2 separate regions of the Homo sapiens genome follow, and region 2 is linked to region 1. A link means that fine-mapping ties the variant in region 1 to the expression of a gene that starts in the linked region. Tissue or cell type: monocytes after Pam3CSK4. Region 1 holds a variant in brackets; the other region holds the start of a gene. All regions are shown on one strand. Distances are between the middles of the regions.

Region 1 (5,367 bases):
CCTTGCCCTGGTAGATTCATGTACTGAAAACAATAAATCTACCCCCTGTTGTTAGTGAGGACTCAGGAGAGATCAGAGGTGGCTGCCTGTTGGAAGTGCCGTCTTTAACCGGATGCTCAGTGTATATGGTTTAGTGTGATCATCTTCAGAGGAACTGTGTGTGTGCAATGACACCTTTTAGAAGACTGACATCCACGGGGTGTCCAGCAAAATGACGTCGCGGAGGCCGCATGGAATTCACAAGCACAGAGCTGAATAGGTTTGGCCATTTTCTAAATAGTTTCTGAAAATCCTGCCATTCAAAGACTAGCAGCTTAATCAGTTCTTTCAAGTGGAAAAAATATTGTTGGAATTTTACAAGATGCCTTAAAATTCTGCCTCCCAGGACTTTAAAATGCAATTGTTTCTTTGTAAGTTTAAAAAATTACTGGCATTGATACATTAATAATTTATCCAAGAAACATTGCTAGGCACTGAAAATATTTTTAGTGAATTATTCTGAAGCGATTGCTAAGTTAAGCAATGAAACACAGTCCTCTACAATTTTACAGTTTTAGCATCTCATACATAATGTCAACATTTATGTACATTTCACCCGGAATTACTCATTATTTCAATGCAAAATGGTAGTGCTAATTCCCAATGTTAAATGTCTGTCTCTATACTAGGTACATTGACTTAAAGCTTTTTTTTTTTTTTTTTTTAACCCTTTTAGAGTCAGGGTCTTGCTCTGTCACCCAGGCTGGCCTGCAGTGGCACAATCACAGCTCACGGCAGCCTCGACCTCCTGGGCTCAAGTGATCCTCCCACCGCAGCCTCCTGAATAGGTGGGACTACAGGTGCCCACCACCACGCCTGGCTACATTTTTTTATTTTTATTTTATTTTTATTTTTTTTGAGACGGAGTCTTGCTCTGTCGCCCAGGCTGGAGTGCAGTGGTGTGATCTCGGCTCACTGCAAGCTCCGCCTCCCGGGTTCACGCCATTCTCCTGCCTCAGCCTCCCGAGTAGCTGGGACTATAGGCGCCCGCCACCACGCCCGGCTAATTTTTTGTATTTTTAGTAGAGGTGGGGTTTCATTGTGTTAGCCAGGATGGTCTCGATCTCCTGACCTCGTGATCCACCTGCCTCGGCCTCCCAAAGTGCTGGGATTGCAGGCGTGAGCCACTGTGCCCTGCTGATTTATAAGCATTTGACATCAGCTGTTTTGTATATTAATCATGGTACAAGCACAATGTGATTAATAGGCGTTAAAACCAATCACATATTTAAGGTCTAATAGAAAACAGCCACCGGCCGGGCACGGTGGCTCACGCCTCTAGTTCTAACACTTGGGAAGGCCAAGGCAGGTGGATCACTTGATCCCAAAAGTTTGAGACCAGCCTGGGCAACATGGCAAAACCCTGTCTCTACAGAAAATACAAAAATCAGTTGGGTGTGGTGGTGCGTGCCTGTAGTCCCAGCTCCTTTGGGAGGCTGAAGCAGGAGGATCAATTGAGCCCAGGAGTTGGAGGCTGCAGTGAGCTGTGATCGCACCACTGCACTCCAGCCTGGGTGACAGAGTCAAACCCTGTCTCAAAAAAATAAAAGAAAGTTAGCCATTAAATTTAATTCTCACCAGAAAAAAATAAGTAAAGAGTTTGTGATTTTAACATTGTTTCTTTTTTTTTTTTTTTTTTTTGAGACAGTCTTCCCCTGTCGCCCAGGCTAGAATGCAGTGGCGTGATCTCGGCTCACTGCAACCTCCGCCTCCTGGGCTCAAGCAATTCTCGGGCCTCAGCCTCCCAAGTAGCTGGGACTACAGGTGCCTGCCACCATACCTGGCTAGTTTTTGTATTTTTAGTAGAGATGGGGTTTCACCATGCTGGCCAGGCTGGTCTCAAATTCCTGACCTCAAGTGATCTGCCCACCTTGGCCTCCCAAAGTGCTGGGATTATAAGCGCGAGCCACTGTGCCCGGCCTGTTTCTTAAGTGAAATTATTTAGTTCCAACATCTGGACACAGAAGATTCGGTACCAAGAGTTCCACACGAGCAAGCTCCTAACATTCCCAAAATGATAAGCAAAGTGTAATGATAATTTTGAAATTATTTAAGAATTGTTTTTGGGCCAGGCGTGGTGGCTCACGCCTGTAATCCCAGCACTTTGGGAGGCCGAGACAGGTGGGTCACGAGGTCAGGAGATCGAGACCATCCTGGCTAACACAGTGAAACCCCATCTCTAATAAAAATACAAAAAAATTAGCTGGGCGTAGTGGTGGGCGCCTGTAGTCCCAGCTACTCGGGAGGCTGAGACAGGAGAGGGGCGTGAACCCAGGAGGCAGAGCTTGCAGTGAGCCAAGATCCCGCCACTGCACTCCAGCCTGGGAGACTGAGCGAGACTTCATCTCCAAAAAAAAAAAAATTGTTTTTGGTGCCAGATGTAGTGGCTCAAGCTTGTAATCCCAGCACTTTGGGAGGTTGAGGTGGGTGAATCCTGGCTGAGACCAGGAGTTCAAGACTAGCCTGGGCAACAAAGAGAGACCCACCATCTCAACCAATAATTTGAAAATTACCTGGGCATGGCGGCATGTGCGTGTAGTCTTAGCACTTGTGAAGCTGAGGCGGGAAGATTGCTTGAGCCCAGAAGTTTGAGGCTGTAGTAAACTGTGATTGTGTCACTGCACTCCAGCCTGGGCAACAGAGTGAGACCCTGTCACAAAAGAAAACAGAAATTGCCCAACAGTGTTCCAGAGTATCCCTTTACACTCCCACCAGCAACGCGTGACGATGCCAGCCCTTCCATAGCCTTGCCAGTGCTCACTGTTGGCAGCGTTTTGATCTCAGGCATTTTTTTTTTTTTGAGACGGAGTCTCGCTCTGTCACCCAGGCTGGAGTGCAGTGGCGCGATCTCGGCTCACTGCAAGCTCCGCCTCCTGGGTTCACACCATTCTCCTGCCTCAGCCTCCCGAGTAGCTGGGACCGCAGGCGCCTGCCACCATGCCCGGCTAATTTTTTCTGTTTTTTAGTAGAGATGGGGTTTCACTGTGCTAGCCAGGATAGTCTCGATCTCCTGACCTCGTGATCCGCCCACCT[T/C]GGCCTCCCAAAGTGCTGGGATTACAGGTGTGAGCCACCACGCCCAGCCAATCTCAGGCATTCTACTCAGTATATAATAGTATCTCATTATGGCTTGATTCATATTTCCTTAAAGATACTGATGTTACACAGTTTCACATGCATATTGGCCATTTGTATATCTCTTTTCTTATGGAATTCCAAATCTTTTGACATTTTTTTCTTGAGATGGAGTCTCGCTCTTGTCCCCAGGCTGGAGTGCAGTGGCACTATCTCGGCTCACTGCAACCTCTGCCTCCCGGGTTCAAGCAATTCTCCTGCCTCAGCCTCCTGAGTAGCTGGGATTATAGGCATGCGCCACCACACCCAGCTAATGTTGTATTTCATTATTTTAATTTGGTATTTGCTGGTGGGAGTGTAAAGTGATACTCGAGGATACTGTTGGGCAGTTTCTTTTTTCTTTTGTGACAGGGTCTCACTCTGTTGCCCAGGCTGGAGTGCAGTGGTGCCATCACAGCTCACTGTAGCCTCACCACGTTGGCCAGGCTGGTCTGGAACTCCTGACCTCAGGTGATCCACCTGCCTCGGCCTCCCAAAGTGCTGGGATTACAGGCATGAGCCACCGCGCCCGGCCTCTTTGACCTTTTAAACTGGAGTTTGGACTTCATGTGGTTGATAGGAGCTCTTCATGTGTTCCAGATGTAAGACTTGTGTCAGATATGTGTGTGCTGCAAATATTTTTTCCTAATCTGTCGTTTGTTTTCTTAATGCCTTCTTTAAGAGAAATGGTTAATTCACCGTCTTTTAAATCTATGATTTTATTGATCTATATTTTGCGATCATCTTTTGCAGCTAATTTCTATCTCCCAGCATGGAGGATGACGGCAGCCTGCTCCCTGAGGACGAGCTTTTGGCCGATGCCCTTCTTTTGGAAGATGGTAATAAAGCTTCTTTCACAGTAACGGAAGTTTCAGCAAAAAGACAAACAAATGACATGCTTCATAGTAGCCCTTTAATTCCCTTTATTTCTGGGAGAGGGTATCTTTTACACTCATATTTTTCTCTCAAAGAGGGAGCTTATATTATTGTCTTTATTTGAAAGAAAGATAAATTGTGGCTGAGATGTTGAAGGCGGCAGACCATAGTTTTCTAGTTTCCAACATCAGTATTGAGAAATCTGATGCCATTTTTATCCCAATCCTTTGAATGTGACCTATTTTTGTTTTCTTTTCCTGGAAGCTGTTTTTAAAAAATCTCTGATGATCTGAAATGTTACTGAGACGTGCCTTGATTTGGTTCTAGTTCTGGGCACAGGCAGGCCATCGCAATCTGGGAACGCATTTCCTTCCCACCCCCACCCCACTCCCCACCCCGTTTTGGGTTCTGTTGTGTGCTGAGTCAGCTCCTGGCGCTGTGTGGCCTTCTCCCCCCTGCCCCCCGCCACTGTCTCCCTCTCCCGCCCCCCTTGTGACTGTGGCTTTCTGCCTTTTCCATCATTTTTACTGAGATTTAATGAAGGGAAGAAAAACTGTGTTCCCTTTGCCGTGTTTTGCCGGAAGTCCGCTGTAATCTTCTGAGATAGTGACCTTCAGCCTCTTTTGTCTGAGAACCCCTTTACATTCTTAAAAATTATTGAAGACACAGAGAACATTTGTTTATGTTGCCTGTATCTTTCCATACTTACTGTATCAAAAATTAAAGCTGGAAACATTTTAATACGTAGCCACTTAAAATAGCAATAACGAACCTATTGGCAGTAACGTTAAGAGTTGGGTTTAATGGAAGACAGCTGGAGTCTTAGAGCTGTCTGTTGTGACGTCACCTGTCATGCAGCCTCTGGAAAACGCCACTGTCCTCTCATGGGAAGAGAGTGAGGAGACAAATGGCGTGCGAGTGTGATCATGAAGACAGTTTTCACCTCACAGGCCCTGAAGGACACTAAGGGACCCTCAGGGTTCCTCGGATTTTGCTTTGAGAACCATCAAGTTAGACTTGTCAAGATTTATCCTAACACTGGCCGGGTGTGGTACCACCAAGTTAGTGCGTGTCAAGATTTATCCTAACACGGGCCGGGTGTGGTGGCCCACGCCTGTCATCCCAGCACTTGGGGAGGCCGAGACGGGTGGCTCACTTGAGGTCAGGAGTCCAAGACCAGCCTGGTCATCATAGGGAAACCCTCTCTCTACTAAAAATATAAAAATTAGCTGGGCATGGTAGGACACATCTGTAGCCTCAGCTACTCGGGAGGCTGAGGTGGGAGGATCCCTTGAACCTGGGAGGCGAAGGTGGCAGAGAGCCAAGATCACGCCACCGCAC
Region 2 (5,367 bases), 820 kb after region 1:
GGAAAAGGTGAGGAGACATCCGTCCCTCCGGGAAGCCTGGAAGACTCTCACAGGAGTGAGCTGTCAGGGAAAAGATGCAGCAGCTGTGAGCTTGCAGCTGACCTGATGACTGTGTGCCCCAGCCTCTCCAGCTGTACAGCGTCAGCCTCTCTCCAGCTGCACAGCGTCAGCCTCTCTCCACCTGCACAGTGTCAGCCTCTCTCCACCTGCACAGCGGCTGGGAGCAGCAGCCTCTCCACCTGCACAGCGTCAGCCTCTCTCCACCTGCACAGCGTCAGCCTCTCTCCACCTGCACAGCGGCTGGGAGCAGCAGCCTCTCCACCGGCACAGCGGCAGCCTCTCTCCACCTGCACAGCGTCAGCCTCTCTCCACCTGCACAGCGTCAGCCTCTCTCCACCTGCACAGCGGCTGGGAGCAGCAGTCTCTCCACCTGCACAGCGGCAGCCTCTCTCCACCTGCACAGCGTCAGCCTCTCCACCTGCACAGCGTCAGCCTCTCTCCACCTGCACAGTGGCTGGGAGCAGCAGCCTCTCCACCTGCACAGCGTCAGCCTCTTTCCACCTGCACAGCGTCAGCCTCTCTCCACCTGCACAGCGGCTGGGAGCAGCAGCCTCTCCACCGGCACAGCGGCAGCCTCTCTCCACCTGCACGGCAGCAGCCTCTCCACCGGCACAGCGGCAGCCTCTCTCCACCTGCACGGTGGCAGCCTCTCTCCACCTGCACAGCGGCTGGGAGCAGCAGCCTCTCCACCTGCACAACAGCAGCCTCTCTCCACCTGCACAGCAGCTGGGAGCAGCAGCCTCGCAGGGTTGCTGCAAAGATGGAGTTTCCACATGTAATGTCAGGACAGCACCCGCCACACACTGCGCAGTCTGCAGGGCTGTGGTGATGGTGACTGTGGGGGTGACGGGAGGCAGAGAGCTCAGGGACAGCTCAGGATAGGCGGGAACACAAGCACATGTGAAAAGCAAGGCGATCGCCAACTCTGAGGAAAACAAATGGGCACCACCCGGGGAGGCCGGGCAGCTCTGCCCCAAACATCATTCGTGCCGGGATGATATGGACAGGGCAGCGTGTGGAAGACAAGCCCCTTTCACCGTCCACGGGGAATTTCTGCACTGGAAGCTCCAGAAGCAGCAGCATCAGGTGCTTTTTGGAAACAGGCAGTTAGAAAGCGGAAGCACAGCACCCACCCCCCCACCCAGGAAACTGCCTCCGTCTCTTCTGCTGCAGAAGAAGCAGCAGCTGGAAGAGGCAGCCAGGTGCTGATTTCATCGTAAGCCTGAGGCCTCCTTTGGGCTTTTCTAACTTTATGTCCTTATGATGTTCACAAATAACTAAATAAGTTGTGAGCTGTTATTTCTTGTCATTGAAATTAAAGGTGTTTTTTTTTTTAATTTTTTTAGACGAAGTCTCACTCTGTCGCCCAGGCTGGAGTGCAATGGCGCAATCGCGGCTCACTGTAACCTCCGCCTCCCAGGTTCAAACAATTCTCCCGCCTCAGCCTCCTGAGTAGCTGGGATTACAGGCGCCTGCTGCCATGCCCGGCTAATTTTTGTATTTTTAGTAGAGACAGGGTTTCTCCATGTTGACCAGGCTGGTCTCAAACTCCTGACCTCGTGATCCGCCCACCTCGGCCTCCCAAAGTGCTGGGATTACAGGCGTGAGCCACCGCCCCGGACTGAAATCAAAGGTTTCTTAAGCAGCTGCCCGCTGTGTGTGTGGTGAACCCGGGGCCTGAATGCAGGTGGGACGCAGCCTCCCAAGCGCCGGGAGCCGCTGGCTCCTCACGCCTGTCGATCTAGCAAATGTGCTTTGGAGTCTCTGACGGACGCGATTCTGAATCCAGAAGGAAAGCGTCTCACTCCGAGATGCTGACTGACGTGTCCTTTATAGCGGTGGGACTTGGGAAGCCGGTGACGCCCGGTGTGGAGGACGGTTGTGACGCCCCTCGGTGGGGACACGGTGTAAAGGCGGCGTGGAAACTTGGTGCACGACCTTACAATAAATTGTAAAATAAGCGTTTTACCTGGTGAGATGAAAAGACCGGCAGGAGACGGCACCCCGGTAGGATGAACAGAAGAGACTTTTAAACCTGAAGAAATCATCCAAAAAGCGACCACATGTTAGTGTCCTGCTGCGAGTTCTCCCCCCAGAATCCAAGCTTGGCCACGTGGGGCCCTAGGAAGGTACTGACATTGTTCGAAGAGCTGGTGCCTCCCGGCCGGAGGCCGCTGTCAAAGGACGCACGACCTGTGGGCTCAAGCAGCCGTCCGTCCAGGACTTGCTCTGCGGAGGCAGACCTGGTCCCAGGCCACGGAGCTCGTCCCAGGGCTGCCCAGCCCTCCCACCCCACCGGGTACACACACCGTTCCCCGGCCTGGCCTGGACCCGAGCCTCTCGCACGGTGGCGCTGGGGTCCGGGACCCGCAGAGCAGGCTCAGCCTGGCCCCACCCTACCCGATCCCTGTCCAGTCCCCTCCCCAGCCTCCTCCTCTCCTGAGCAGCCTCCCGAGGGGACCCGCAGGCAGGGCGTAGGAGGGCGGGGCCGAGCCCACTGGACCCCAGCTGGTGGCCGCCGGCGCTTCTTACCTGCCCAGCCCACAAGGTCCTGGGAGCCTGGGCCAGGAAACAACAGTGGTGACCTGGCAACCGTCTCCTGGCAACCCCCACCCAGCCGGAACCCAGAGGTGAGCTTGGGTTTTCGGAGGATGGGGAGGGGCTGCTGAGTGGCGGGGCCAGCCCGGGAAGCCGGGCTGAGGGCTGAGGCTGGAGAAGGGCACAGCTTCATGGGCACAGCTGCCTCCCAGTCACTGCTGGGACTGCCTGAGCCTGAGCCCCAGTTGCTGCCCCTCCGCCCGGCCCTCCCAGGATGGTCCCTGAGCCGTCTCTCAGGCCCCACCCATGCTCAGCACCCCAGGACCTGGCCCGGGCCAGGCTCTGCGTGCACCCTGGTGATGTTGGCTGGATACACGGCTGCCGATCCCTGAGCATTCTCTGTGCTTCACGTGGTCGGGTCCCTGTTCTCACTCCACAGCGGACGAGGTGCCACTGTGCCCCCCTCTGCAAACAGGAACCGGGGGCTCCACAAAGTGAGTGCCCCCCAGAGGGGGACTCACATCTATCGGTCCAAACTGCACCTTTCTGTAAGCCCCTCGCTGTGTCACAGACCTCGGCCAAAGTGAAGCATTCCGCAGGGGTTTGGGCCGTGAGGAACAGCCTGCCCGACACCTGACTTGAACACTCTGCGGGGAAAAACACCGAGGAACATCACGATTACCTTCTGCGGGAACAAGGGCCAAACAAACGGCCTCATCCTGAAGCCGTGTGGCCCGGGCCGCTCCCACCCATACCTATAGGCACCCCAGCCCGTAGGCGGCAGTGGGCTCTGGCATCCAGCTGGTCCCCCACCTCTGCAGGTGTTTGCAATGTACCCGTGTTGATGTAAGGCTGCCCTTTCTCCATCTCTGTGTGTCTTTGTTTAACCCTCACATTCTCTCTTTTTTTTTTTTCAAAATACGGAGTCTCACTCTTTTGCCCAGGCTGGAGTGCAATGGTACGGTCTCGGCTCACTGCAACCTCCGCCTCCCAGGATCAAGCAATTCTCCTGCCTCAGCCTCCCGAGTAGCTGGGATTACAGGTGCCCACCACAGTGCCCAGCTAATTTTTGTATTTTTAATATTAATTTTATTTTTTATTTTTATTTTGTTTTATATTTTATATATTTATTATTTTATATATTATTTTCTATATTATTATAATTATTTTATTATTAATTTATTATTAATTTTAGAGGGTTTCATCATGTTGGCCAGGCTGCTCTTGAACTCCTGACCTCAGGTGATCCGCCCGCCTCGGCCTCCCAAAGTGCTGGGATTACAGGCGTGAGTCACTGCGCCTGGCCTGCCCTCGCCTTCTCTTTAAAACACCTAATGATACGAGGTCTGGGAGTCCTGGGCTCCTGGCATGACCCATGGCACGGTCTGATCCCCTCTGCCTCAAACTCTGAGCCTCCAGCCACGTGTCCCCTACCCATCCGTGTCCTTCAGAGCTTTGCGTGGGTCACGAGGGCCTCTGTGCTTAGGGTCCCCTTGCAGGGGGCTGGTGGTGCCCCCAAAAGACAACCACATCATAGCCCTGAAACCTCGAATGTGACCTTATTTAGAAGAAGGGGCTTTGCAGGTGGGGTTACGTCAGGATCTCTAGTGACATCACCCAGGGCAGGCCCTGAATCAATGGCCTCTGCCCCCCTGAGAGGGAGGTGGAGAGAGGAGACGCAGACGTGGGGGAGACGCCGTGGGACTGGGGGGCAGAGATGGGTGACACGGCCACAGCCACTGATGCCTGAGCTGGCAGGGGCTGGGGAGGCAGACAGGGTCCTCTCCTGGAGCCCCCAGAGGGGTGCAGCCCTGCCTGCCCTGTGGCTTTGGAGTTCTGGCCTCCAGATGCGGGCGTAAGCGTCTGTTGTTGTGCCTGCCTGTGTGGTTTTTCAGCAGCCGGGAGGAGAAGCCACCCTTTCGAGAGTGTGGTGCCCGCTCCGGAGCCGCCTCCCCGACCCACGCCGGGGCGGCAGCCTGGGGGTTCCCCGCTCTGTGTCCCTGGGGCCTGAGCTGTGGGGGAAGAAGGGGCCCCGGCTGTCCCTGGGGAGTCCCTGGAAGGAAGAGAGAGCTCTCGGAAGCGGGGCGGTGGGGGGCGTCTCCCACCGTCCTCCTGGTTCTGTCCAGCTGGGAACAGTGTCCTCGTCCCCTCCCCGCACTCCCACCTTGCGCCTGGTGCTCAAGCTTTGAGATGGTCCCGCTGGACCCTGGTGCGGAGCAGACCCAGGAGGCCCCTCTGCCCTCTGGGAGCCTCAGGTCAGGTGGCAGGTGGGGCTGGGGCAGGTCCTGGGCTGAGTGGCTGGGCCTTCGGGGAGCAGGGCCCACTTGGTGGGGGTGACGGGTGGGGGGTTCCTTCGGTGGCTGCTGTGGCTCTCCAGGCTGGGAGCAGCAGATCCGGGTTCGGAAGCTCTGACTCTGGGAAGGGGCCTACGTGTGTCCCCTCCTCCCTGAGGCTGAGGCAGGTGGCCTGACAGGAGCTGATGGGGATGGGAAGGACTCGCCCAGCTCCTCTCCAGAACTGGCCCTTCCGGGAACAGAGCAAGGCAGGGTCCTTGCCCCTGGGCTGGGAGGGAGAGCCCCGTGTTCATCTTTGTGGCGCACCGGCCTTTGGAGGATGTGATCTGGACACACACCTCGGAGGACGGGTTTCCTTGTGTGGGGGGAGAGGGGGTGCAGCGGGCAGGTCCCCCAACCCCTGCAGCCTCCCCTCCCTGGGGCCCCACACAGGCCTGAGGACTCCCCACCGCCCTCAGAAGCCCCCAGGCTCCCC

Direction of the effects. Positions count from the first base shown, and alleles are read on the strand shown. Sizes are in standard deviations (SD) of each study's normalised expression.
With allele C in place of T in region 1, the expression in monocytes after Pam3CSK4 of the gene that starts at base 2,639 in region 2 is lower (large effect, 1.3 SD a copy in Quach 2016).

The links. PIP is the estimated chance that this variant, and not a neighbour inherited with it, causes the effect. A credible set is the group of variants that fine-mapping cannot tell apart.
Region 2: it holds the start of TTLL10, and the variant in region 1 is the best candidate, but not a certain one, in a credible set for the expression of TTLL10 in monocytes after Pam3CSK4 (Quach 2016, PIP 0.89).

The regions. Positions count from the first base shown.
Region 1 is chr1:1,989,512-1,994,878 of GRCh38, reverse strand. It overlaps CFAP74 (cilia and flagella associated protein 74), which reads left to right. Exons shown (of 39, transcript NM_001304360.2): 2 at 3,904-3,989. The coding sequence starts at 3,923. Among named protein-coding and RNA genes, the nearest start is that of CFAP74, 12 kb to the left of the region's middle. RefSeq lists an enhancer at 5,324-5,367. The variant T/C (reference allele first, on the strand shown) is at 3,073.
Region 2 is chr1:1,171,152-1,176,518 of GRCh38, reverse strand. It overlaps TTLL10 (tubulin tyrosine ligase like 10), which reads right to left and starts at 2,639. Exons shown (of 16, transcript NM_001130045.2): 1 at 2,593-2,639; 2 at 2,198-2,234; 3 at 2,030-2,095. It overlaps TTLL10-AS1 (TTLL10 antisense RNA 1), which reads left to right. Exons shown (of 2, transcript NR_173246.1): 2 at 123-3,463. RefSeq lists enhancers at 404-922, 5,146-5,367 and a silencer at 2,400-2,489.